4 linked regions of the Homo sapiens genome follow. The protein of the gene in region 2 interacts with the protein of the main gene of each other region in a pairwise test. Each region holds a gene or a part of one and is shown on either strand. Other genes may lie near its edges.

What was found.
Region 1: the proteins of MID1 (region 2) and UBE2K interact in binary tests that used the Homo sapiens proteins (3 or more experiments, as listed by UniProt).
Region 3: the proteins of MID1 (region 2) and UBE2L6 interact in binary tests that used the Homo sapiens proteins (3 or more experiments, as listed by UniProt).
Region 4: the proteins of MID1 (region 2) and KIF9 interact in binary tests that used the Homo sapiens proteins (3 or more experiments, as listed by UniProt).

What each region holds. Positions count from the first base shown.
Region 1 is NC_000004.12:39,771,127-39,778,152, forward strand, and holds part of UBE2K (ubiquitin-conjugating enzyme E2 K), read left to right. Parts: exon of another isoform or gene 1-573; intron 574-3,707; coding exon 3,708-3,807; intron 3,808-6,555; coding exon 6,556-6,684; intron 6,685-7,026. UniProt on the Homo sapiens protein: Accepts ubiquitin from the E1 complex and catalyzes its covalent attachment to other proteins. In vitro, in the presence or in the absence of BRCA1-BARD1 E3 ubiquitin-protein ligase complex, catalyzes the synthesis of 'Lys-48'-linked polyubiquitin chains.
Region 2 is NC_000023.11:10,449,586-10,456,611, reverse strand, and holds part of MID1 (E3 ubiquitin-protein ligase Midline-1), read left to right. Parts: intron 1-1,534; coding exon 1,535-1,742; intron 1,743-6,895; coding exon 6,896-7,026. UniProt on the Homo sapiens protein: Has E3 ubiquitin ligase activity towards IGBP1, promoting its monoubiquitination, which results in deprotection of the catalytic subunit of protein phosphatase PP2A, and its subsequent degradation by polyubiquitination.
Region 3 is NC_000011.10:57,564,649-57,571,926, reverse strand, and holds the start of UBE2L6 (ubiquitin/ISG15-conjugating enzyme E2 L6), read left to right. Parts: upstream 1-4,254; 5' UTR 4,255-4,315; coding exon 4,316-4,342; intron 4,343-7,278. UniProt on the Homo sapiens protein: Catalyzes the covalent attachment of ubiquitin or ISG15 to other proteins. Functions in the E6/E6-AP-induced ubiquitination of p53/TP53. Promotes ubiquitination and subsequent proteasomal degradation of FLT3.
Region 4 is NC_000003.12:47,272,793-47,279,818, forward strand, and holds part of KIF9 (kinesin-like protein KIF9), read right to left. Parts: intron 4,588-7,026; coding exon of another isoform or gene 4,583-4,587; coding exon 4,490-4,582; intron 2,699-4,489; coding exon 2,533-2,698; coding exon of another isoform or gene 2,516-2,532; exon of another isoform or gene 2,436-2,515; intron 867-2,435; coding exon 760-866; intron 1-759. UniProt on the Homo sapiens protein: Essential for normal male fertility and for progressive motility of spermatozoa.

The sequences.
Region 1 (7,026 bases), on a different chromosome or scaffold from region 2:
AGATAGTTGACGATGTCCCTAACAGCGAATTCCAGGGTGCCCGTGTAGCAGGAGAGAAGCAGGTCGGCCACGATGCGTGCACTGTGCATCAGGGAGACCTGCAGCTCCGAGCTGGGGTTAAGCAGGAACTGGTCCCGCAGGAACGGTGAGCAGGCGGCTAAGATGACCTTGTGGCCTCGAAACTTGAGGCTGTCGGCCACAATGGTCACGTCGCAGAACCACTCCTCTGCCCGGAGCTTGTTCATGTTCCGTAGCGTAGCGGCCTAGTGGCCGGGCAGCTGGAAGCGCAGGACTTCACCCCAGAGGCCATTGTGGCGGGGGTGGGCAACCCTGGCCCGGTTCCGCGCGCTGTTTTTTTTTAATCCCCTATTTTCCCCACCCCCGCGGGGCCGGAAGCGCCCCCCACACACGGGCAGAGCCAGGGCAGCATGTAGGCGCAGGGCGGGAGGGTGTATAGGGCGCGCTCGCGCTGGCGGGGCCGGCTCCACGTGGGCGTAAAGGGGTAGGGGCGGGAGCGGCTCGTGCGGTGTGTTCCAGGCCTCGCGCGCGCGGCGACGGCGTCGGCTAGGACTCAAACCCTGGAGTTTCTGATTCAGTAGCTCTGGGATAGAGAAAACTTCCCAAGGGATGCTGATGCTGCTGGTTGGATGAACAACACTGAGATCATTGCTTTAAGACATCCATTGTTGGTTGTTGGCAATAACTTAACTTTTTGGCTAGGGGTGGAGGTGTAGGAGACAGTCTGGCTGTCTCCCTCAGGCTGGAGTGCGGTGGCGCCATCTGGACTCACTATAACCTTCGCCTCCCAGGTTCGAGCGATTCCTGCCTCAGCCCCTCAAGTAACTGGGATTACAAGCATGTGCCACCACATCTGGCTAATTTTTGTATTTTTGGCAGACAGTGTTTCGCCATGTTGCCCAGGCTGGTCTCAAACTCCTGGCCTCAAGTGATCTGCCTGCCTCGGCCTTCCTAAATGCTGGGATTACAGGCGTCAGCCACTGCACCCAGCCTAAATTAACTTTTATCGTAGGCATCTAGGGAAGTACTATTTATGTACCAAACTTGGGAAAATTGAGAAAACAGTCACTAATTTTTTCTATTTTGTGGTTCAAATCAGGAACCCAGTTGAAAAAGGCTGGTTTAGAGTAATTGGCTAGTTGTCGTGGCTCACACCTATAATCCCATCACTTTCGGGGGCTGAGGTGGGAGGACTGCTTGAGCTCAGGAGTTCAAGACCAGCCTGGGTAACATGGTGAAACCCTGTCTCTACCAAAAAAAAAAAAAAAAAATTGTTTTTAATTAGCTGGGCGTGGTGGTGTGCACCTGTAGTCCCAGCTACTCAGGAGGCTGAGGTATGAGAATCACCTGAGCCAAAGAGGTCAAGGCTACAGTGAGCCTTGATTGTACCACTGCACTTTAGCCTAGGCAGCGTGAGACCCTATCTCAAAAAAAGAAAAAAAGAAGAATGATCTAATTTACATGGTAAAAATGGGCATTCTCTTTACATGTAACATTTTTAATATGTCCACATATTTATACATACCTCTATTAATTGATAAAGCAACTTTTTTTTTTTTTTGAGATGGAGTCTCGCTCTGTCGCCCAGGCTAGAGTGCAATGGCATGATTTTGGCTCACGGCAACCTCCGCCTCCCGAGCTCAAGCGATTCTCCTTCCTCAGCCACCTGAGCAGCTGGGATTACAGGCACATGCCACCACGCCCAGCTAATTTTTGCATTTTTTGTAGAGATGAGGTTTCACCATGTTGGCCAGGCTGGTCTTGAACTCCTGACCTCAGATGATTGCCCGCCCTGGCCTCCCAAAGTGTTGGGATTACAGGTGTGAGCCACCGCGCCCAGCCAGTGAGACAACTTTTTTTAACAGAAATGCCAAGAATTATTGCTAGACAGGTAGATACTATTTTTTAGACAAATATTAGCTTTATAAAGATATTTTCCTTATAAATACATTTAGAATCATAAATTAAGTGATGTAGTTTAATCCAAAAAACTTGTCCTGTTTCAGAATGTTATGGAATGATTTCATATTTTCTTGAAAATATGGCCGGGCGCGGTGGCTCAAGCCTGTAATCCCAGCATTTTGGGAGGCCAAGGCGGGCGGATCACAAGGTCAGGAGATCAAGACCATCCTGTGTCTCACGGTGAAACCCTGTTCTACTAAAACTACAAAAAATTAGCCGGGCATGGTGGCATGTGCCTGTAGTCCCAGCTACTTGTGAGGCTGAGGCAGGAGAATTGCTTGAACCAGGGAGGTGGAGGTTCCGGTGAGCCGAGATCGCGCCACTGCACTCCAGCCTCGGCGGCAGAGTGAGACTCCATCTCAAGAAAATAAAAGAAAAGAAAAAAGAAAATATATTTGTTTCATAGTATCTTGTTTTTAGAGTGCCATTGAAAGAAAGCCTCACATGCTATTAGTACTAATGATTTATCACTTTAACTTTGTTTAGAGAAATGGATAGAAAAATAAGTGAGTGGATAAAACTAACAAGAAGGTGGCTGGGCGCGGTGGCTCACGCCTGTAATCCCAGCACTTTGGGAGGCCGAGGCGGGCGGATCACGAGGTCAGGAGATCGAGACCATCCTGGCTAACACAGTGAAACCCCGTCTCTACTAAAAATACAAAAAATTAGCCGGGCGTGGTGGCGGGCGCCTGTTGTCCCAGCTACTCGGGAGGCTGAGGCAGGAGAATAGCGTGAACCCGGGAGGCGGAGCTTGCAGGGAGCCGAGATCGCGCCACTGCACTCCAGCCTGGGCGACAGAGTGAGACTCCGCCTCAAAACTAAACTAAACTAAACTAACAAGAAGGATCTTGGCAACAAGAAAAACAAGGACAGTTCAGAATTCGAGTTGTCTTAAGAAATAGAAAAGCTGGCCGAGTGTAGTAGCTCACACCTGTAACCCTAACCTTTGGGAGGCCAAGGTGGATGGATCACCTGAGCTCAGAAGTTCGATACCAGCCTAGGCAACATGGCAAAACCCCGTCTTTACGAAAAAAGGAAAAACAAAAAAAATGCTGGGTGTGGTGGTGTGTGCCTGTAGTCCCAGCTACTCGTGAGGCTGAGGCAGGAGAATCGCTTGAGCCCAGGAGGCGGAGGTTGCAGTGAGACAAGATAGTGCCACTGCCCACTCCAGCCTGAGCGGCAGAGCAAGACACTGTCATTAAAAAAAAGAAAAAAGGCCGGGCGCAGGTGGTTTTTCATGCCTGTAATCCCAGCACATTGGGAGGCCAAGGCGGGCGGATTACGAGGTCAGGAGATCGAGACCATCCTGGCTAACACTGTGAAACCCCGTCTCTACTAAAAAAAAAAATACAAAAAATTAGCTGGGCGTTAAGGCGGGCCCCTGTAGTCTCAGCTACTCTGAAGGCTGAGGCAGGAGAATGGCGTGAACCCGGGAGGCGGAGCTTGCAGTGAACCGAGACTATACCACTGCACTCCAGCCTGGGCGACAGAGCCAGACTCCGTCTCAGGGGAAAAAAAGAAAAAAGAAATAGGCAAATTGTAAAGTAAGGAAGAAAATATATGATAGGCAGATACATAATTATAAATGTCTATGACTTAACTATATAATTAAGATAAAGATCTAAGTAACTTTTAGCTCTACAATTTTTTAATTTTTATTAAGAAAATACTTTGCTTTTGCCTGCAGAGCCCTCTTAATTGGGATATTTTCATGTTTTGCATTTTAGGGCAGCTGCAATGACTCTCCGCACGGTATTATTGTCATTGCAAGCACTATTGGCAGCTGCAGAGCCAGATGATCCACAGGATGCTGTAGTAGCAAATCAGGTAAGATGGCCGCTTTTGAAAGACTTTCTTATATTATGTATGAGTCTCTAGCCACTTCAGTGGTTTGCACATTAACACATGAGCATACTCTATTGAAACTAAATTTTGAAATGGTTTTCTTTCTTGTGGTAGGATTATTTTGTCAGGTGTAATAGTGAAAATAGACTTTTAACATCCTAGTTTAATTGGATATAGATGCTGTTTTCCTAACATGAGTATTTTCAAACACATAAAGTCAAAAGAATTACATAGTGAACACCCATATTCCTACCATCTAGATTCTATGATTAATGCTCGTGTATGTGTCCATCTTTTTATCCTTCCTTTCAGTGATGATCCCTCCCTGCTAATAATTTTAATCACCTCCTATCATGGGACTTATGTGACATGGCACAGTTTCCAATGACCTTGTAATTTGTTGAACAGAATAAATATTTTTCATTTCGCTTTCTAGCTACAGTGGCTGAGTTTATTAGTTACAACGGAGACTGGACCTAAGTTATTAGTATCTGACCTGTTAAGAAACAGTTTGCTGGCCAGGTGTGTTGGCTCATGCATGTAATCCCAGCACTCTGGGAGGCTGAGGTGGGTGGTGGATCACTTGAGGTCAGGAGTTCCAGACCAGCCTGACCAACGTGGTGAAATCCTGTCTGTACTAAAAACACAAAACTAGCCTGGCGTGGTGGCACACACCTGTAGTCCCAGCTACCTGAGAGGCTGAAGTGGGAGAATCGCTTGAACCTGGGTGGCAGAGGTTGCAGTGAGCTGAGATCACACCATTGCACTCCAGCCTGGGTGACAGAACGGGACCCTGTCTCAAAAAACAAATTTGCCAACACCTACTCTAAGCCATTGGAATATAATGGACATTTTTTTTTTTAAACTTAGAAAGTTTTTCTTCTCTTGACTTCTAAGATATTACCCTCTTTTCTTCCTCACTTCATAGCTGTTCTTTGTTAGTTCCCACAATTATTTCCCTTCTTACTCGTCTTTCTTAAATGTAGTTCCTCAGTTCTGACCTTGTTACCTTTACTTTCTGTACACACTCACACTTGGATGATCATATCTGTACTGATGTTAGTACCTGTACATTGATAAAATGTTTAGGCTTGCCCTCTCTCCTAAGCACGAGAGCCTGGTGTTTAACTAAATTGGTAGGTGATGGTATCATAGAATGATAGGTTTGTAGGATTTATGATACTGCATTCAGTTTTGGCAGTGTTACATTCAGGTATCCAAGGAACATTCATATGGTTAACCACCCAAGTCACAGCCTTTGGAGTTTTTCTCTGTGTCTCCTTTGCTCCTGTTGATAACCATTCCCTGTATCATTCTGTCACTATATTTACATAATTACTCTGATTGCCATAGGTCACTTTTAAAAAATTGTTTCTTTTCAACTGCTCTGATAGATCTCCTTTTCTCAACCTCTTTCTTCCTTTCTCCATCTTCTACATTGCTATCAGGTAGCTTTATAAAGTGCAAATCTTACTTCACTAACAAAAACTTGTTCGTAGCTCTACTGTCATCTACTTGAGTCCAGATTCTTTAGTTTGCAGAGTTTTTCCATGATCTGAACTCTGCTTTATTTCCTAAATTCTTGTTTTCTTCAAACTCATGCTTTTTCAAGCATTGCATTCATTTTTACATATTGTATCCAATCTACCATATTTCCTCTGCCTGAGGAAACTTCCTCTTGGCAAACTTCTTTAACCTATAAGATTTTAATTTATATATTATCTTTCTTCTTTTCCCTTGAAGATCTGTTTATGTATATATGTATATATCCTTGTCAATATATTCTGTTATTTGTCTCAGAGTACTTCCAATTAGGGTTTTCCATGTTTTATATATGTGCTATTTGTTCATATTTGTTGTTATAAGCATGGCTTGTGTTCCAGCTTTGCTTTCCTATTGAGCTCTAAGCCTTACACGTTGAGGTTGGACTCAAGGGTTTCTTTTAGCTCCTAAAATAGTTCAATAATTTGACTTATTTCCTTGTGATGAATAAGTGGTAGAAACTAGATTTATCGTTTTAATATGTAATAGATTTAAATATATAAATTACTTTTAAAAGAAATATTAAAGTGAATTGAATAGTTAGTAATTTATACTTTGCTTTACTAAGTAATGGTGGTTCCAAAGTATTTGATAAATTTACCTCTTTCCAATGCATATGGGAAGTCTTTTAATAAAATTACTCTATTGTGAGTTTATAATCATCTCAAGTTATGTAATAAGTTAGGACTTTGCATGTGGGGTTTCCATAAATCACTGTACACTAATGCAGCTGTAAGAAAACAGAAGAATCTAGTTGTATTCTAGCCTGGGCTGTGGGTAATACAAAAGCTGGTTACATCGTAAAAAATTATTCTAATGTCCACATATTTTTATAAGCTAGTAATCTGTGTTCAGTTGTATAATGTTTGCTGCTTTCCAGTGTTTGGAACATCTCTTAATACCTCACTTAACCTAATTTTAGTCTTGCTAGTTATATTTGTTGAATTTGGAGATTAAAGTAGATTAATGTTACTTGTCTTTATTATTGTCAACACAAATTGTGAGTCGAAGCTTCAGGTTAAGTGGTCTTTTCTCGAGTGACATAGGTTGTCTATAATGCAAAGTGAATCACATTTTAAATGTAGATTTGTTTTATTTGGAAAAGTAGGATTGTAGGCGATTAAGAGCTGAAATATATCAAATATTATAACTGTAATGTCATGTCAATCAATTTTTCCCCCCATATAGTACAAACAAAATCCCGAAATGTTCAAACAGACAGCTCGACTTTGGGCACATGTGTATGCTGGAGCACCAGTTTCTAGTCCAGAATACACCAAAAAAATAGAAAACCTATGTGCTATGGGCTTTGATAGGGTAAGTACATAAGGGCATGTTGATTTTGATATATTGATTGATTTTAAATTATTGCAAATTCTTGGCTGACAAAAGTGGTTTAGAAAATAAGAGAAATTCGCAGCCTGGGCAACATGGCGAAACCCATCTCTACAAAAATTAGCTGGACATGGTAGTGAGTGCCTGTAATTCCAGCTACTCTGAAGGCTGAGGTGAGAGAATCCCTTGGGCCCAGGAGGTCGAGGCTGCAGTGAGCGATAGTCATGCCACTGCACTCCAGCCTTGGTGATAGAGCAAGACCCTGTCTCAAAAAAAAAAAAAAAAAAAAAAAAAAGGAAAATAAGAGAAAATCTAGTTTTGGTA
Region 2 (7,026 bases):
AGCTGCCTTGGCCTCTCAAAGTGCAGGCATTACAGGCATGAGCCACCAGCCCAGCCTAAGCTTTTCTTTGATATGTACAGAAATAGATTTCTAAAACAAAAGCCAGCTAACTATAGCTCAAGGGCCAAATCTGGCTGCCTGATTTTGTAAATAAAGTTTTATTAGCATATAGCCACACCCATTCATTTACCTATTGTCCTGTCCGTGGCTGCCCCCTCACTATAGCAGAAGAGTTGAATAGTCACAAAAGAGACCACATGGCCTGGCCTGCATAGCCAAAAATATTTACTGTCAGGCCCTTTGCAGAAAAAGTATGCTGGTCCGTGACCTAAAAAGAAAGGATTTTAGAGGTGCTGGTGTTGTGTTGTGTTTGTATCCAAAAGGCAACTGGAAATCCTTTGGCCTACCCACATGTGACAACACACACTGTCCTATACTCACTGGGTCAGTTTCTCGCCCAGCATCGTGTATTGCCACAGTTGAATTTACTAGACCTTTTCCTGTGATTGAGAGCTGTATACTGGGCAGAAGGAACCTGCCAACTGCAACAGTGACTGTGGAGTTTGGACACCATGGCATTTGTATCAGGTTGCAATGCATTTCCTGCCTTTAAACGCCTTGTACCCAATGCAGTGTTGAATGACAGGCAGTACTCCAAACCAATATTGAATTGTCAAAGAAGAAGTAACAACTATGACAAAATGTCCAGGTGTGACTCTGCCAAGATTTTTTTAATACTTAAATCTTTAAGACACAAATGTGAGTAATGAAATAGAGAAGGCCTTATTATATATAAATAATTTCATGAGTAGAAAACCCAGGCATTGCTATCACATTTTTTCCTAATTTTGTGGCCTGAAAATTGTATTCTCATCCTAAATTCCTAAGAGTAATGCTTTAATTTTTAATAATCTCAGAATAATATAAACCTCTAGAATATTCTATATGTTAAGACCCAAGATCTTGATTTGTTTGGTTTCTGGTCTGAAGTCTATTGAGCATGAATGCATCTTATGCTGGATAGAACACTGCAGTGGTTGAAAATGGAGTCTTCATTCATTCCTCCTTTTCAGGATGCTATCCAGCCAGTATGTACCTGTGCTGCTTGTATACACCTGGAATCCGTGAAGCTAGCTCACCCTATGTTTTCTGGCTAAGCCTTATCCATGCTGTTGTTGAATAGTTGGCATGCCACCACTGGATCCCTATCTTAGAACTGGTAGACTGAAAGCTTATGAAGACAGGAACATGTTCTTTTTCACTCTTACTGTGTACTGTACTATACACAGAGTTGCTGCTCTCTATTGTCTTTTGAATATTATGAAAACTTTGCAAGCAAATGTCTTTGAAAGTTGCTTATAATGTTTAAATTACTATTAAAATATAAGATACCACTTTGTGATAGGAGGCATGACTCAGGGAGGGCTGGCTTGTTCCTGTCTTTTAAACCTGATTTTGAAAATATGCTATTGGTTATGATAAAATAAACAATCCTCTTCCTCTTCCTTTTTCTGTTTTGTGAATTTGTTTTCAGGCCAACCATTTAAACTGGATCCCAAATCTGCTCATCGAAAACTGAAGGTGTCCCATGATAACTTGACAGTAGAACGTGATGAGTCATCATCCAAGAAGAGTCACACACCTGAACGCTTCACCAGCCAGGGGAGCTATGGAGTAGCTGGAAATGTGTTTATTGATAGTGGCCGGCATTATTGGGAAGTGGTCATAAGTGGAAGCACATGGTAAGCAACTTATTTCTATTGTCCTGCAGTTATAAAAAGGCACATCTCATTCTGTACTTAGAGAGTCAACCCATACTGTAATGCATCTTAAAGAATAAAATGCAGAAAAGTTGTATTAGTCAGCTCTTGCTAGGATAATACTGCATAACAAACACCCCCAAACTCAGCAGATTCAAACAACAACCATATATTACTAATACCCACACCTGTGGGTTCTCTGTTCAAGATTATAGAGCTCTGATCATTGGATGAGCTATACCATGTTAACACTGCTCTTTCATGCCATGAAACATGGGTTGGCAAACCACAGCCCATGAGCCAAACCTGGCCTGCTACCTGGTTTTGTAAATAAAGTTTTATGGGAATACAGCCAGGTCCATTTTTTTACATATAGTCCATGGCTGCCTTTCAGCCACAACAGCAGAATCGAGTAGTTAAGAGAGAATCATATGGTCTACGAAGCCAAAAATATTTACTTACTTTCTGGTCCTTTCCAGAAAAAGTTTGCCATTCCCTACTTTTAAACATCACTCTTCATCATTACACAAAACTAATTTCTGTTGCCTTGTATGTTTTATGGTTCTAGACTGGACCAATTAGTGCAAATAGCTAAGGGTTGAATGGTGGGGGTGAAGCAGTGATCATAGGCTGGGAATAATTTCAAAAGGCCTGTTAGATCCAGCCCAGTGACTTTAGCCCACTGAGTTCTCTAAGAATAAGGGCAAAGGTCAGGACACAATTACATTGGAATTAGTTAACCTCACAAAGTTAACCTTGCCTAATCCACAGCCACAACTGCACCCCTTTGACCGTCTGTCTCACAAATGCCTGCTTGCTATTGATCAAAAAGGGAGCTATTTTATTTTTATTTAACAAGCCCTCATATGGTACAAGTATGTGCCAGGCACTGGTCTAAGCATTTTACAGATGTCAACTCATTTATTCAGCCTTACAGCCCTACAAAGGTAGGTGCTAATATTATCCACTTTACTGATGAGGTGACTGAGGTATATGCTGAAGATCACAGGGTTACAAAGCTCACAGGTGGCAGAGTCAGTAAGTCTGCAGTCAAGGGTCAGGCTCTTAACCAGCAGTCCACAAACATTATCTGTAAAGGGCCAGAGATTCAATATTTCTGGTTTTGCATGCCAAATGATTTTTGTCACTAATACTCGACTCTTCTGTTGTAGTGGGAAAGCAGCCACAGACAACACCTACACAAATGGACATGGCTGCGTTCCAATAAAACTTCATTTATAAAAACAGGCAGAGGGCCAGAGTTGGCCCCTGGGTAGTAGTTTGCTGTTCCCCGCTCTTAACCACCATGGTATGCTGCTATTCACAAAAGGGTGGTATATTTTTGAAATGCTATAATTACTCTCTAGGGTTTATGACAGTGTACGTAATGAGTGATAGCTGAATCCTTGCTTTAAAAAATAAAATCAACATTCAAAATTGCATAGCCTGAAGATGGTGAGTATAACAGTGTTTCTTTCAATATAAGCATGATAAAACACTTATTTATATATAAAAAAACCTTTCAATTCAAACCTATGCAAATAATGTGACATGGCTGAGTCCTTTATATTGTAGGTAGAAATTAGCCAAAAATCTAAGAAGTGAATTGTAAGCTTCCCATCTCTCCCAATAATGGTACATACTATATTGGCTGAGCGAGTAGGTTTTCCTTTGTTGCTATCCTCATAATTCTCTTTGCCTAGAAGAGTTTTCTGTTCCAACATCCTGCCAGAGGATGGAGGACAAATCCTTCACCCCACTAGGCTCTGGGCTAGATTGGCATTTGCAATTTTTAGCTGCAGTGGGGCAAAATTAAAGCACAAAGGAAAACACAATGGATGCAGGTACAAAAAAAGCAAATGTTTCTAGTTAATTAATGTGCTGTATTAATCTGGGATAGAATCCAGGGTCTAAATGATTATTACTCTATTAATAATTAATTATGATAAATGAAACCTGATCATTATGATCTCATTGCCATTGATGAATAGTTTGCAAAATTCCATCAGACCACTTCAGTTATATAAACACACATCAGCATTACCTTGAAAACACCCTCCAGATGTCAAAACTAACTCATGAGGGGGAAAAGAAATTCTAAAATTAATTGCTACACAATTAATCTTTACAAACCTGACGGTGTCAATTTCAGAAAAATCTTCATGTAGAAAGTCACTTTACATTTCCTTGGGGGGTATTAGCAAGGAAGGGGCACCCCCTACGATTAAATGCCTGTGACATCTTGACTTGCAACAGCTAATGACATATTTGCTTATGAAATATAGTCCTGACTTTAAATTGATGTGTACATTATGATCTGTGCAATGGGGCACGTTAACATTGCTCCGAGAGACATAATTTTTATACTTTGAATTCTCCGTGTCTCACTGCGTAACTTAATGGAACATTACATTCTGCCTGCACATTTCAAGCTCAATGGAAATATGTACCTAGTTTCACAGATTAATGATACTATAATGGTATTTTCCTTTGCTTAATGGACTATACACTTAGTATTTTCTTACTCTCTAATGCTAATGTGCACTTGGTGTTTTATGAAATGGTGTTAACTAAATGAGTAATAACGGGTTCATGCAAAGATTATTAGACCAGAAGGGGTGGGGGCAGCATACAACTCTGGATTTTGCTCCCAATTTTAATCTTCTGTTTCTACTTGCTACATGTAGTCAGCCATACCTGCCACAGCTATTTCATAGGGTTCAGTTAAGGTTCAAATGGGAAATAAACATCAAAGTAATAAAAAATAAAAATGCTGTGCCACAACAAGAAGGAAACAATACAGATGTGGTGATTTTGTGATGCAGGTTCCAAATTGTCTGAAAAGCGGAAATAGTATTCACTGGGGTATACAGAACATTTTTGGGGGGTGGGAGATACTGACAATTGCAAAATGAAAACCTTTCCAAAATGTATGTATTAGTCTGTTTTCATGCTGCTGGTAAAGACATAACCAAGACCAGGCAATTTGCAAAAGAGGTTTATAATGGACTTACTTACTTACAGTTCTATGTGGCTGGGAAAGCCCACAATCATGGCAGAAGGCAAGGAGGAACAAGTCCCGTCTTACATGGATGGCAGCAGGCAAAAAGAGAGCTTGTGCAGGGAAACTCCCCCGTTTTAAAACCATCAGATCTCATGAGACTTATTCACTATCACGAGAACAACACTGAAAGGACCTGCCCCCATGATTCAATTTCCTTCCACCGGGTCCCTCCCACAACATGTGGGAATTCAAGATGAGATTTGGGTGGGGACACAGCCAAACCATATCAGTGTATCAAATAAACAGATGACATTTGAGACCCTCGATGCATGCCACAGAAGGGAGCCAGAAGCTTACAGGACCCTGGAAGGGCTGGGGCATGAAGTCAGGGAGTCTGCTGCTCTAGTTCATGGAGTCATGATGAGCTGTAGCTGCTGCAAAGTTGCCCACAGCACAAGGCAGGTGTACTCAGGCGCTCATCTAGAAGCTTCCACCAACCGCACGTCTACTGTCTGCCATCAGGAAAGCGTGTTTCCCCTCCTCTAAGCACTTCTGGATCTTGTGCAAAGGCATCACAATAGCAGAGCCTGACCCAGACTCCTACAGGAAAGGGGATTCTGGGAAATGCAACTTGGATTCTCCTCATAAGCAGGAGAGGATGGACGGGAGGGAAGAGAGGATGCAACATTGATGACAGACAGGCCTGCACACTGGGCTTGGCAGATTATCAATTCCATCCTTCTTTTGGATTTAGTGATGGCATGTTGTGTTAATTTTCTTTTTAAACAAACACACCACTCTTAAAGTGATTGTATTTTAAGTCCAGTGTGATTTTTTTTAAAGAATGTCATTTTATTAAAGACCCATGAAATTTTTCTCTCTGCATTGGGTAAGGTACCATATGTTAATATCCAATTAGACTGGTTTCTGCTATAACATATTAAAAGTTCAACTGTGAGTCATTTACTCTTTATAAAGAGTGATGGGTTTTGTTTATCTTAATAACTGAAATACGATGAATATTACAGAGGCATGACTCAGAGGGGTAAAAAGAGATTAAGATGCTTAGAACATTGTAGAAAGCATTCTTTGGATTTTTTTGAGCAGCAAGAGAACATTTAGAATAACCAGAAGATCCGTCTGCTCAAACACGTTCAGAATTTTTTTTCCAGTATAATCAGAAAGGCTCTTGGCAGTGATGAACTGCACAATTTCTGGTTACGGATGGCATTGTAGAATGTAGTTCGTGTTTGTGGGTTTTGAGTCATCCTGAGTTCAAATTCTGATTCTGGTACTTATTGTTAATATGTGCCATCAGGCAATAATAATAAAATAAATAGCAGTTACTGAATATTACATGCCAGGTCCTGTGCCTGGGACTTAACATGTATTCTCTCCTTTACTCCTTAAAATAACACTGTATATTTCTCAATATACATGAGAAAATTGGGGCTGAGTAATGACAAAGGATTTATCCCTGCAAATGGGAATCATCTTCTGTGCTTGCCCTTGGCAAAGTGCATTCAGAATCAGAAAATGACAGACATGGTGTTAAATGAAAAATTATAAGAAGGTCAAAAGGAGAAGTCTAGGGTTGTGCTGTCCAGTATGGTAGCTATGAGCCACAGGCAGCTATTTAAATCATTTAACTTAATGAAAATTAAATAAATTTAAAGTTCAGTTCCTCAGTCTCACCAGCCGCAGCTAAAGTGCCCAGTAGCCATATGTGGCTTGTGGTTACCATATCGAGGAGAGCAGAACATTTCAGTCATTGAAGAAAGTTCTTTTGGTCAGCACTGGTCTAGCGAATTCATTGTGTAGATTTTTATAAGAGTGAAAAAAAGCAGCAAAACTCAAAGTTCAAATTCTCCGTAGTGTTTGAGCTGAAAACAGAAATGTGGGTAAATACGACGCTTCTTTCCACCCACTACTTTCCACCCACTTTCCATGTTTGGGAGGGAAGGAGATGAGGAACACAGATGTTGGGGTTCTTGCCAAGCTTTCACTTAAAGAAAATGAACAGGGACAACAAATGATCATGTTTTTATAACCCCTGAGGACCACAGAACGGATTTAACGTGCATGTGCAACATGGCTCATTGTTTTTGTTGTTGCTGTTTTGTTTCCGCAGGTATGCCATTGGTCTTGCTTACAAATCAGCCCCGAAGCATGAATGGATTGGGAAGAACTCTGCTTCCTGGGCGCTCTGCCGCTGCAACAATAACTGGGTGGTGAGACACAATAGCAAGGAAATCCCCATTG
Region 3 (7,278 bases), on a different chromosome or scaffold from region 2:
GAATACCCCCAGCTCCCCTCCTGGGACTCCCTGACTCCTTGATTGCCTCTATCCATCCCTCCACCTCAACCACAAGGGCAGGGCTCATGGTACAGGAGGGGTGTGTGTGTGTGTGTGTGTGTGAGACTAACCCAGAGGAAGGGGGGGTGTGGGGTAAGCACGAGGATCAAAAGAAGCAGGAAATTCTCTTCTGTCTCTGGTTCCTGGGAACTTCTTCTTTTTTTTTGCCTGCTCTTGTTGCCCAGGCTGGAGTGCAATGGCTCGATCTCAGCTCACTGCAACCTCCACCTCCCAGGTTCAAGTGATTCTCCTGCCTCAGCCTCCCGAGTAGCTGGGATCACATGCATGCACCACCACACCTGGCTAATTTTGTATTTTTAGTAGAGACAGGGGTTTCTCCATATTGGTCAGGCTGGTCTCGAACTCCCCACCTCAGATGATCTGCCTGCCTTGGCCTCCCAAAGTGCTGGGATTATAGGCACGAGCCACCGCACCTGGCCCAGGAACTTCTTTAAGCTCTAGGAAGATGGGGAGAGCTGGGGTAGTTCTGAGATTAACCGTCCCTACTCCAAATAGGAACAAGCCCAAGGAATGGGCATGGAAAGAAATCAACTGATCCTTCCTGATCCAAGTTCTTCCTTTGAAGATGCACTGAAGGTTCTTGGAGACATTTGAAAAATCTGAACCTCTTGCCCAGAACTCTAGAGGCATTATAAATAGATAACGTACTTTCACACCTACAAGGTGTCTGCTCACATACACCATCTCATTTTATCCTCATAAGAGACTGGCAAGCCTTACAGCTGGCAGAGCTCAGTCTTGGAAGAGACATACCTCATATGTGCACGTCACTTAAGAGGCCTTTCTCCTACCACCTTTTGTCATCACACAGATGTGTGTCTCTTCCTCTCAATGGTGAAGACGAGCCAGCCTAACCAATCAATGCCTGAATCCCATCGAGTACCCCATACAGGGCCTTGTATAAGTAGGTGCTCAATAAATTTTGTAGATGGATGAATAAATGCCAGTGACCAGATCAGGGAGAAGTAAAACAGGGTCTCCTACTGGAGAAAATAGTGTTGCTGTTGTTCTAAGGGAGCAAGCTCAGGCATCTGTTCCTACAGCCTGGTACATTCACTCTGAGGCAGGCACCTGACATCATTTTAATATTTATTATGTTATCATTATCATAACTGTCACTTATTGTCCACCATTCAAAGTTAAGTTCTTTGCAAATATCAACTCATTGTTTCTCACATCCACTGTTATGAGCTCCATTTAACAGATGAGGAAATGGAGGCACAGACAGGTTAAGTAATGTGCCCAAGGTTATTTAGCCAAAAATAGTGGAGCTGGGATTCAAACCTGATTGTTTATATCCTGGAATTACAATTTTCTTGTTTTGCTTTTTGAGACAGAGTTTCGCTCTTGTCGCCCAGGCTGGAGTGCAATGGCCCGGTCTCGGCTCACTGCAACCTCTGCCTCCCAGGTTCAAGTGATTCTCCTGCCTCAGCCTCCCCAGTAGCTGGGATTACAGGCGCACGCCATTACACCTGGCTAATTTTTGTGTTTTTAGTAGAGACGAGGTATCGCCATGTTAGCCAGGCTGGTCTCGAACTCCTGACCTCAGGTAATCCGCCTGCCTTGGCCTCCCAGAGTGCTGGGATTATAGGCATGAGCCACCATGCCAGGCCTCGGACTTAGAATTTTCTTTTCTTTTTTTCTTTGAGCGGAGTCTTGCTCTGTCCCCCAGGCTGGAGTGCAATGGCGTGATCTTGGCTCACTGCAACCTCTGCCTCCTGGGTTCAAGCGATTCTCCTGCCTCAGCCTCCTGACTAGCTGAGATTACAGGCACCCACCACCATGCCCGGCTAATTTTTGTATTTTTAGTAGAGACGAGGTTTCACCATATTGGTCAGGCTGGTCTCGAACTCCTGATCTCAGGTGATCCGCCTGCCTCGGCCTCCCAAAGTGCTGGGATTACACGCGTGAGCCACTGCGCCCGGCGACTTACAATATTCTAAGTTCCTCCACTTCCCTCAGCTTAGCCTCACAATGGTCCTGGCAAGCAGATAGGAGTTTCCGCCGACCACCCAAGGCCATAACTGCACATGGGGGCAGATGTGGAACTAGAACCCAGGTCTCCCTGGGGCTTGTTCTGACACACAAAGGTCTGCATTGTGAAAGGACATGAAAGGCACACCAGTGGGCTGCCCCACTGTGTGGGGACTTAGGACCCAGCTATATCCATGACTGTTAATTCACCTCGGGATGCAGCGTTCCTGTAAGAAAAGAAAAGGAGAGCTACGATACGTGGACAGAGGCTTTTGCTCCAGTTTCCATAGACACTGCCCCGTTTGCTCATGCTGTTCCCTCTTGTTAGAACATCTTCATCCCACGCTCTTACTTCTCGCTGACTCATCATGTTTCACAATACACTTGGATTTTTCTCTCTTCCGGGAAACCTCTGCCCCTCCCTGAAGAGGGATAAAGTGACCCTCCTCATACTCCCAGAGTACCAGGTGATTCTCTATAGCATTATCATTAAAAATCAGGGGCTGCATTCTCTCCCTCTGTCCCAGTAGTCTGGGAACTAACTCCTCAGGAGCAGGGACTCCCCTTTCTCATCCTGGTGTTTCCTATTGGCAATGCCTGCCACTCAGTAGTAGGCGCTTGTTGACTGAGACTATTGATCACAGGCAGGTTCGAATGTCTTTGTTCCCTCATCTCTACCCCTGTTAAGGGATTACGGAGTGTCCTATTCATTTCGGGCATATAGAAAATGCTGTTAAAGTTCATTGAATTGAATGAAACAATTAATCGTTCTGCAAAATCTGAGCAGAGAAGTCATTTGGTTTCAAAATACTTGGATAAAAACATTACGGTGGCTCACGCCTGTAATTCCAACACTTTGGGAGGCCGAGGCGGGTGGATTACTTGAAACCAGGAGCTCGAGACCCTGACTCTACTAAAAATACAAAAATGAGCCGGTCGTGGTGGCGCGCGCCTGTAAATCTCAGCTACTCAGGAGGCTGAGGCACGAGAACAGCTTGAACCGGGAGGCGGAGGTTGCAGTGAGCCGATATCGCCACTGAACTCCAGTCAGGGCGACAGTGAAACTCTGTCAGAAAAACAAGAAACAAAAAAACTGTGAGGTACTGAGATCACAAACTGGTGCTCAAAATATACTGATTTCCTTTCTCGTCTGGACTAAACGGGGGTAGGGAAGGGTGAGAAGGAGGGGATCGGCCCTCCCAACAAGTCTCATCTTCCCCAGATGCTGCTTGGTGCTCAGGGGCTGCAAGTACTCTGTCCTTGCACAGAGGGTTGGGGACTCCAGCTGTGCATGGGGGCACACATTAGGCCCACAGCTTGTAATGGACCAGTAGTAAAGTAAGGGAGGGGAAGCAGACTCTCTCTTGGAAAGGAGGCTCCTGAGTCCTTCTTGGGGCTTCCCCCACCAACTGTTTCCCAAACCAGCATACAGTAGGCACTTAGTAAATACTAAACCTAGTAAAGGACTGAATGATGGTAGACCGAACCCCCAAAGCAAAAGAGAAAGGGTCCAACAGCGCCTCCTTGCGGTGCTCTGCCCCAAGCCACGGGGAGAAACGTTGCAGCCCGCGCCGAACGCCGGGCAGCACAAAGGATCCCCGACTGCCGGGGAGCGGTGCTCGGAGGGCACAGGTCTACGCCATCCCCCACGCAGTTTCGGAGATGGAGCGCTGGGCCCATGGAGGGAAGGCGGCAGGCTCGGCGGCTCCGGCAGCTTGCTGGGGCAGGGGCTCAAGGCGGCAGTCCGATAGTGGAGGCCGCTGAGAACTGTCACGGAGCTGCGTCTGTACAGCGAGCATCCCTTATTTATTCAGGGCGAGTGTGTATTTGGGGCGGCGTGCAGGGGGCTGACAAAGACCGGAGAGCTCCCGGTGCGGCCGCCGGCGGAGCGAAGACTGGAACCCGTATGAGCGCCCCCCAGCGCCCCTGAGCGCTCGCCGCCGGTGCACGGCGCACCCCGCGGGAGGCAGGGATCAGCAAAGCCGTGCGCCCCGAGGCCCGCCCCCGTCTCCGCACAAAGACCGTGAGTCCCGGGTCCGAGCCTTCCGCGCGGGGATCGGGCGGTTGTCCGGCGGGTCGTCCTTCGACGGCCTCCTGGCCTCGCCGGAGCGGGTGCGGGGAGGCCCACGCAGCGACGGCTGGAGGAGGGGTGGGCGGGGCTGCCGGGGGTGGGGTCCCCGGGGCGGGGCGGGGCGCGCTGTGTCGCGGGTCGGAGCTCGGTCCTGCTGGAGGCCACGGGTGCCACACACTCGGTCCCGACATGATGGCGAGCATGCGAGTGGTGAAGGTAACCGCGTATAGGATGACCCCTTTCTCTTGGCTCCCCTCGCCTCCCGCATTCCCTCCTCCCTCCATCCCCTCCGCGGCTCTCCGAGCACATTTATTTATTTGTCTGGGCACCAGGGCTGGCTGAATCCCTGTCCTCCCCGCCCTCTACTCAGAGGAGGACTGGCCTGCAAGAGTGGCCAGAGCTGGGGTTTTGGGGGTTTGGAGGCCTCTGCTTGAGCCGTTCGCGTGGTGAAGATGAGCCGGCTCCCCCAAAACTGGTTTCAATTTCGCTTTTCCTGCCTGAAACTTGTGATAACAACTGGGTGCATCTCCAGTGCAGGAAAAGTCCTTGGCATCTTGGTGCCAGGCATTCTGCTACTGCTGGTGGTGGGTTATGAACACAGATGACCAGGATGAAGTCCTTGCCTTGGAATAAGCCCATAGCCCATCCCATAATTTGATGCCTGTATTACTAGAGTCCTGAGAAACACGGAATGCTGATTAGAATTTGGGACAAAGTTCCCTGAGTATTCTCTGGAGGAAAAGATGCGGAGGTGGACCTGGAAGGCCTCCTGGAGTAGGTGGCTTGCGTTCGTGAGTTCTACAAGTGTTGAATGCCTACATGTGCTGGCCCTGTTCTAGGAGGGGGGGGGGGGCGGGCAGAGATGAACACAAATCCGGCCCTTGTTGAATTTTGTTCCTATCAGGGACACAATTTGAAATAAGATCTGGAAGGATGGGGAGGGGGCAGTTTCCTCCAGAAGGTGGGAAAACCCAGGGTGTTTGGAGATGGATTAGGGAGGAAGGTGATCCTGGTGAAGTGAGTCTGGCACCCCAAGTCTTTCAGAAGTGCCCCTTCCAGTCTGCAGGGTGGAGGGGCAGGCTCTAGGAAGAGGGTGCCTGCTACCCTCAGCCTCTGAGAAGAAAATGGCCTCAGACTGGGATGCCCAGAGCAGGCTTGGCCTAGATACTAAATCTGGAGGTTGGCAGCAAAATGAGGCAGAGGGTCTTTCCAGCCAAGTGGAAGAGAGATGGGAGCCAGAATTTATTGCATTGGAACCATTACATGCCAAACGGTTTACATGGTTATTTCATCTAATTCGCACAGCAGTTCTGTGAGATAAGTAATATATACCCGCATTTTACAAATGAGGAAATTGAGGCACAGAGGAAATAACTTGCTTGTCCAGAGTCTTTCAGTAAGGAGCAATGGGACTGGAATATGAAACCAGGTCCACAGGCCTCCAGCCTGCAGGCTCTCTTAATGGCCTTTCTACTTTCATTTTCTGTTCCTCTGAGTCAGGTGATTTCCTAGTAGGCAGTAGGAAAGAACTGTGTGTTTTAGGTTGGGTTTCAACTTCCTCAGGCTTTGGGAAAGTTCTGGCAGAACTCATCCTAAACAGATAAAGTTCAAGTGTCTTTATCTTTCCAAGACCTGGAAAATGTCTATTCCAGATCTTCTCCGGTCAGCCCTGGGCTTTGTTCTTGCCAAAGAGTCACAGATGATAGAGAAACTCTTACAAGTGCAGATGCTTCTAGTTTGGGGTAAAGATAAATGAAGGGCCATTGACCCTGGGTGGAAGGCACCAGAAGCAGCTTATTGGTTGAACAGAAATAGAACATAGGCTGAGGGATAGGAGGGGGGCATGGGATGTGTTTATATTATATGTTGGGGGTGGGGGTAAGGCAGAGAAAGTTCAAATGGTCCACAGTGTTAAAGGACCCCTCCCCACTTGTGGACTGGGTTTGGAGAGCTTCAGTTTCTCAACCTCATCACTACTGACATTTTGGGTCACATAACTGTTATGTATCCATTGTATGTTTTTAGATTTGAGGTTACTACAAGGTTTGTAAATAATATCTTATAACCTGTTATTTTAAACTGATGACAAGTTAACACTGATTACATAAACAAACAAGCAAAATGAAAACTAATGAAGGCCAGGCGTGGTGTCCCACTCCTGTAATATCAGCACTTTGGGAGGCTGAGGTTCGCGGACTGCTTGAGCCTAGGAGTTCGAGACCAGCCTGGGTAACACAGCCAAACCCCATCTCTACAAAAAGTACCAAAATTAGCCGGGCATGGTAGCACACTGCTGTAGTCCTAGCTACTTGGGAGGCTGAGGTAGCAAGATCACCTGAGCCCAGGAGGTTGAGGCTGCAGTGAGCTGTGATTGTGCCACTGGACTCCAATCTGGGTGACAGAGTGAGACATTGTCTCAAAAAAAAAAAAAAAAAAAAAAAAAACAACTAATACAAACTGTATACTTTAACTTCGTCTTTCCGCTTACTAACTTTTTGTTGTTTCTATTTCTTTCCTTCTTTCTTTCTCTCTCCCTTTCTTTCCTTCCTTCCTTCCTTAAGATGGAGTTTCACTCTTGTTGCCCAGGCTGGAGTGCAATGGTGCCATCTCAGCTCACCGCAACCTCCGCCTCCCAGGCTCAAGTGATTCTCCTGCCTCAGCCTCCTGAGTAGCTGGGATTACAGGCAGGCACCATCACGCCTGGCTAATTTTGTATTTTTAGTAGAGACGGGGTTTCTCCATGTTGGTCAGGCTAGTCTCGAACTCCTGACCTCAGGTGATCCACCCACCTCAGCCTCCCAAAGTGCTGGGATTACATGAGCCACTGTGCCCGGCCATTTCTATTTCTTTCTTATTGTACTGTCTACCTCTTGAAAAATTGTTGTAGTTATTATATTTAATTGGTCATCTTTTCCTCTTTCTACTTAAGATATGAGTAGTGTATATACCATAAATACAGTGTTATACTAATCTGTGTTTTTCTTTCTTTTTTTTTTTGAGACGGAGTTTCGCTCTTGTTGCCCAGGCTGGAGTGCAATGGCACGATCTCAGCTCACTGCAACCTCCGCCTCGTGGGTTCAAGTGATTCTCTTACCTCAGCCTCCCGAGTAGCTGGGGTTACAGGCACCCGCCACCACGCCCAGCTAATTTTT
Region 4 (7,026 bases), on a different chromosome or scaffold from region 2:
GATGCTGAGATACTGAAGCTTTGACAGTGGGATATTAAGGGTATTGCTCCAAAAACAGGAGCATGGATGGTTCACATACTAGAGGAATGTATACACTTCTTATAGGACAGGGCTGCAAAAAATCCTGTCCTATAACACTTCTTATAGGACAGGGCTGTAAAGCTGCCTCTTGGCAGCTTTTGCCTCCTACCTCCGACCAGAGGGTCCTTACAGAACCCAGGCTAGTGGGGCCCAAAGGAAGGCCCTTCTGTCTTATCTTCAGTTATGCTATTGAGACCCCCCGGGCTGACACAGTCCTGAAAGCTCAAGTCATGCCCTCCTTCTTGCTTTTGATCTTTCAGGGGCTGTGGTGGTGAAAAAAGCCAGAGTAGGCCAGTAAGGAAGTTCTGCAAGGGTCTATATGCCCCTCATTAAAACCAGGAAAGAGAATGATTAGGACCTCCAAATCCTTAATTACAGGATCACAGACCACTGGAGCAGCAAGAGGCTGATTAGCATGCCTGACTCCCTCCTTCCCAAATGAGGAAACAGGCTCAGTGTGGGTATGGCTCAGAGTCTGACACCCAACCTCCTGGTTTCCTGAGGCCCCTGACTCTACTGACTCCAGAGCCCTGTGTATGTTGTCTCCAGTACCAGTATCCACTGCAACTCCTTTGAGGCCTGGTCCCCACTGTCTCTAGTAGCTGGCCCAGGGTCAGTAACATCTATGGCAGAGAGAGGGAACCTGTGTGGCATCCCACCCTTGGGCCCACTCTCTACCTGCTGCAGGGCACGAGGGAGGATCCCCCGGTGCTTGTAATTCTCAGTTGCCCCCATCATGGTGTATGTCTTGCCAGCTCCCGTCTGCCCATAACACATGATGGTGCCTGCAAACATTTCAAAACACGGTGACATCCAGGAAAATAGCTCCAAGGATAACTCTCCCCTCTCCCAGCATGCCTGGTGCCAGCCAGGGCCCTTTGCATGAAGATGGCCAGTGGGGGCAGCCAAGAACATCAGGAATTCCACCATGGAAGAGGATGGGTGGGCAGGGGAACAGGGACAAAAGTGGTCAAAACAAGGACATCTGCCCTGAATCTGTGGTCCCCACAATGCTCTGCTGTTCCCTCCACCAAGAGATGATCCGGCCCTAGGGCTTCTGAGAAGGACAGGGAATCTCAGGGTACAGAGGAACTGGAACTTTTCCTAAAAAGATGAGGAGGGAGATAGGAGCATTAGACTCCAGCCCTTCTCTAGCACAGCTATGAACTGCCAGGGTCTCAGGGTTGGCAGGAGGCATCAACTTCCCCACAGAGGCAAAGAGGGGCTTTCAAAATCTCCAGGAAGAGATGGAGTGGAAAGGGCATTTTCTGTCAAGGGTGAGAATTCTTTGTAGACTACAAATTCCTGCAGGATGAAACAGGGCTCCTAGTTGGTTCCATGTCACTTCCAGAAATGTACCACCATGATCAGGCCCTGATCTGGTCCACTGCCCACCCTGGGAAGACTTTCATTGCACTTCTCAACATCCTTTAGGTCTACCATCACCACCAGGCTCCGGGACACAAACCATGCAGTCACCCTGAGCTCCGGCTCCTATCTGTTCTTCCCCTTAGCATGGGCAGCCTGAGCCAGACCCCATCCCACAGGCTGCCCATGGGCATTTACATGGCAGATCTGCCCAGGCAATGCTGGGCTGTGAAAATTTTTTGCCTTTGTCACACAGACACTCTAGTTCTTGGGACTGGTGGCAGGTTTTACACAAGCGATCCTGATTCAGCATCTGAGTTGGAGCCAGAAATGGTGTCTATTAACCCAACACAAATGAACAGGAAGGAGTCACTTCAGCTGCAAATCAGAGCCCATTTGTGGTTCCACAGCACCAGTGCTCAAGACTATTCATCTCCCTGGGCCTTAGTTCCTCTGTCTTCACCTCCTCAAGGTCACAATCAGAGCATCATGAAAACCAAAAGAGAACCTCCTTAAGTCAGTGGGGACCACACCTACGTATCACATTCAGGATAAATTACAGCATCTACACTCAATGCACTTTTAAATATAAAACCTAAACTTGCAAAACAGGGAACATCCTAGTCAGCAGCCACCAGATGGCAAAGTCTACAAACTGTGACATATTCTTTTATACAATCCTATACTAGAATATCAACTGTACATTGATTGTGTTGGTAGAATACATGAAAATAGCTCCTAGCAGGAAGCTGAGAGACAAATGTTTGGACTCCATCAAATTTGTCATAAAGACGTATCTTCAAAACTAATACTTGAGAGATTTGAAACAGGATAATTGAACCCCTGTGACCTATAGAGAGCCATAGTCTTTTAATTTTCCTATGAAGGTAGAATCCCAGGACATTGGATCAAGCCATGCCCACAATGTCAACAAGCAAACAGTAAGTTTTGCAACGTAAGAACATGGAGACAGACAAACATACAAATGATAGTGAGTGAGCTTTTATTTTATTCACCATAAAATATTTGCATCTCTTACTCCTCAGGTTCTTACATAAGACAACATTTAATTAATTAAGTTACCATTATAGCCATCGAGGGCCTGAGAAACCACATCCTTTGCAACTGTCTCATAAACCAAGTCCTGGGAGGCATCGTGAAGAACTCCATCCAACTTAAACGACCAGTCTGTCTGTTGGTTATTGACAACTCCTCTCCGAATGTCTTTTTTTAAGTGAATATCAATGCTCTAGGAAAAAAGAGTGAGAAAGAAAAAAATGTTATTTGTTCAAAAATGGGTATAAAAAAAATCACTGATAGCTGAGGCCTAATCTGGAGGGAACAGAGGAAATGAACTGTAGGATGAATGGGGACTCCCACGTAGGGGCTGATATTCCAGATGAATTCTTTGGGATGGGAGAAGAGAGTTCCTGCAGGGAGATGGAAAGATCAGGAGAGTGGAGCACTTTCTAGTTTTAGCACCTCTAACCCTAGTTCACACGGTGCTGTCTTTGTTTCCCCACCTATGATATGAGGTCAAATTTATCATGTTCTTATTAAACAAGTTTTAGATAGATTCCATAAGCATAGGGAGGCCTTGAATTATGCCAGAGGGAATAGTGAGCCTGGTAACAGAGGCCTGGGCTCCAGCCTCATTGCTCTGGTTGCTGGCAGTGAGGCCTCCCTCAGCTCTGCATTATGGTGAACATCTACTTCCACACACACGCTATGAGCCAAAGTGAGTGATGATGAAATGAAAGCCACAGAGAAGGCTATGGACTTCTCAGACATAGGAATTAAGAGTAAATTGAGGGTGTCATCAGCAGATTTTTAGATGCATGCCCCTTCATAGTAAGCCATTGTAGTAGCAGCTGGCTTAGGGACATACTGGGTAAGGTCAGTGGTAGATTCCAATCTTCTTGATGAGAACTTCTGATGTAAAGACTCTTGCTGAAATCTTACACTGACTGCCCTAATGCAGGAGCTATACCTGGCTACAGAGAGAAAAATTAAGATGAAGAAAGACAGACTTGGCCGGGCATGGTGGCTCACGCCTGTAATCCCAGCACTTTGGGAGGCCGTGGCAGGTAGATCACCTGAGGTCAGGAGTTCCAGACCAGCCTGGCCAACATGGCAAAACCCCGTCTCTACTAAAAATACAAAAATTAGCCAGGCATGGTGGCACGTGCCTGTAATCCCAGCTACTAGCAGGGCTGAGGCAGGACGATCGCTTGAACCTGGGAGGCGGAGGTTGCAGTGAGCCAAGATTGTGCCACTGTACTCCAGCCTGGGCAACAGAGTGGGACTCTGTCTCAAAAAAAAAAAAAAAAAAAGAAAAGAAAGAAAGAAAGACTTGGTCCACTCACACATTAAATGCTCTGTGCTTCTGTGTTCGCTGAAAACCATGTCCAGCAGGACACATTTGATAGGGCTGCATGTGAGCTCTTTTCTGACCGCTAGGACCTGCGAGGCTTGGGCAGTTTGCCCTTGAATTTTTCCTTTGAAGAATGTCTCAATGCTGCCCAGAGTAGGCCCATAATTGTTTGCTGAATGAAAATATCTAACACTCTTACACTGTCCTAAGCCTTCAGAAGCATTCTCAGGGTGAGGATATAGGGACGGATATATCTTTCCACTTCTCTTGATAAGTATTTCTCCAGCTGTTTTGATAAGCTAAACAGTAATGAACTCAAGATATTCTTACTGCACCCCATGGGCGATTATACAATGACAGATCAATCATTAGAAAGCTTTATGAATGTGAACAAATGTCAATTCTTCTGTGTCAGATACGAGGGTAAAGGTAAACTTATTAATTTATTAAAGGTAAAATTATTAAAAGACAATTAACGATGGGATTTTATTAATTTCTTCATTAGCAGTGTGTGAGGGGGTGGTTTGGATTTGATGGGCTCTAGAGTCCATTGGATCCTGTCCAATTCTGTCTTGGTCCTTCAAAGGTTGCTTGGAAATACGGTCACACTATAGCAAGGTGGGACAGAGAGGCCCAGTCAGTTGAAGGCAAACACATCGCACTTACTCTTTTGTCATCTCCGTATCTGATCATTTCATGAGCAAAGTCATCGGTGGGTTTGACACGGACAAATGCATGAACTTTTTTCCTAGTACCCATTCTAGCTAAAAAGAAGGGAACAATGAAATTTTGAGTAGTCATTATCAAATAACAAGTAGAGGAGAGGGGTCATTCATTAAGAAGATCAGAAAAGAGTGACGAGCAGTCCATTTTTCCCTCTCTCCCTGAAAGCCAGTTTTCCTTTTCACCCCTCAGCATTTCAGTGTTCTACCCACAAGACACTGCTCAACAAATACACGCACTTTCTGCTTCACAGACTGCTTTGCCATTTTCCACCAATGACCCCAGAGAGACTGAAATACAAAGTGAAAAGAATGCTTCCTTTAGTGGCCTAATCTTAGATGTCATTTCTAGAAATGTTCTGCAACTAAGATGATGAGTCCACTTATGCTTTCCTTCATTTATTATATTTTCTTCTAAAATACTTACTATGAAATACATTAAAACTAATTTTCTTTTCATTAACTTATCTTGCTTCAGATACAGCATCCTCTTCTCCAGTAGACTAACTAGATCAGAAATAGATGACCCAGACGTATATTTGGTCCATAATAAATATTCTTTCTTCTCTTACTATATTGAGAAAAAATATCACAGACAGTCCCCTACCTCCTCTTGCTCTCCTAAAACCTAACTATATTCTCATCATTTTCTTTCAGTGTGTGTGTGTGTGTGTATGCGTGTGCATATACATATATATAGTAGTATAAATAAAGGAAGACATAGGACATATATACATACATTTTTTTTTTTTGAGACAGAGTCTCACCCTGTCACCCAGGTTGGAGTGCAGTGGTGCTATCATGGCTCAATGCAGCCTTGACCTCCCAGGCTTAAGTGATCCTCCTGCCTCAGCCTCCCCAGTAGCTGGGACTACAGGTGCGTACCACTGTGCCCGGCTAGTTTTCTTACATTTTTTTTGCAGAGATGGCGTCTTACTATGTTGCCTAGGCTGGTCTTGAACTCCTAGCCTCAAGTGATCCTCCTATCTTAGACTTCCAAAGTGCTGGGATTACAGGCATACCCAGCCGATGTTCAATATTTTTTAAAAAATTAACATTTATTTCATTGTTTTATTTTTGGAGACAAGGGTTTCTTTATGTTGTCTAGGCTAGCCTTTAACTTCTGAGCTCAAGTGATTCTCCCATCTCAACCTTCCAAGTAGCTAAGACTACAGGCGCATGGCTTGGCTTTAAAAAAAAACTAACTTTTGGCTGGGTGCAATGGCTCATACCATAATCTTAGCACTTTGGGAGGCCGAGGTGGGCAGATCCCTTGAGGCCAGGAGTTTGAAACCAGCCTGGGCAACATGGCGAAAACCCATCTCTATAAAGAATACAAAAATTAGCCAGGCAGCCAGGTGCGGTGGCTCAGGCCTGTAATCCCAGCACTTTGGGAGGCCGAGGCAGGTGGATTACCTGAGGTCAGGAGTTCAAGACCAGCCTGGCCAACATGGTGAAATGCCATCTCTACTAAAAATACAAAAATTAGCTAGTTGTGGTGGCAGACGCCTGTAATCCCAGCTACTCAGAAGGCTGAGGCAGGAGAATCGCTTGAATCTGGGACGTGGAGGGTGCAGTGAGCTGAGATCGCGCCATTGCACTTCAGCCTGGGCGACAGAGAGGGACTCCATCTCCAAAAAATAAATAAATGAATAAATAAATAAAATAAATAAATTACCAAGCATGGTGGTGCATGCCTATAGTCCCAGCTACTCAGGAGGCTGAGGTGGGAGAATCACTTGAGCCTGGGGAAGCTGAGGCTGCAGTTAGCTTTGATCATACCACTGCACTCCAGCCTAGGTGACAGAGTGAGACCATATCTCAAAAAAAAAAAAAAAAAAAAAACTAACGTGGGCCAAGTGCGTTGGCTCTTGCCTGTAATCCCAGCACTTTGGGAGGCTGAGGATGGCAGATTACCTGAGGTTAGGAGTTCAAGACCAGCCTGGCCAACATGACGAAACCCTGTTTCCACTAAAAAAAAATACAAACATTAGCTGGGTGTAGTGGCAAGCGCCTGTAATCTCAGCTACTCAGGAGGCTGAGACAGGAGAATTGCTTGAATCTGGAGGGTGGAGGTTGCAGTGAGCCAATGTCATGCCACTGCACTCCAGCCTGGGTGACAGAGCAAGCTCAGTCTCAAAAAAAAAAAAAAATCAAAAAATCTAAGTAACTTTTAAGATGTTAACCATAAAAACCCCTCATGTATAACAGGGACTACTTTTAATTAGATTATCTTGCTTTTTTAAAAAGTACATTAAATAATGGTAATATTTTATTTTATTTTATTTTTTTTTTTTGAGGCAGAGTCTCGCTCTATCACCCAGGTTGGAGCGCAGTGGCGCCATCTCAGCTCACTGCAAGCTCCGCCCCCCAGGTTCACGCCATTCTCCTGCCTCAGCCTCCCGAGTAGCTGGGACTACAGGCGCCCGCCACCAAGCCCCGCTAATTTTTCTGTATTTTTAGTAGAGATGGGGTTTCACC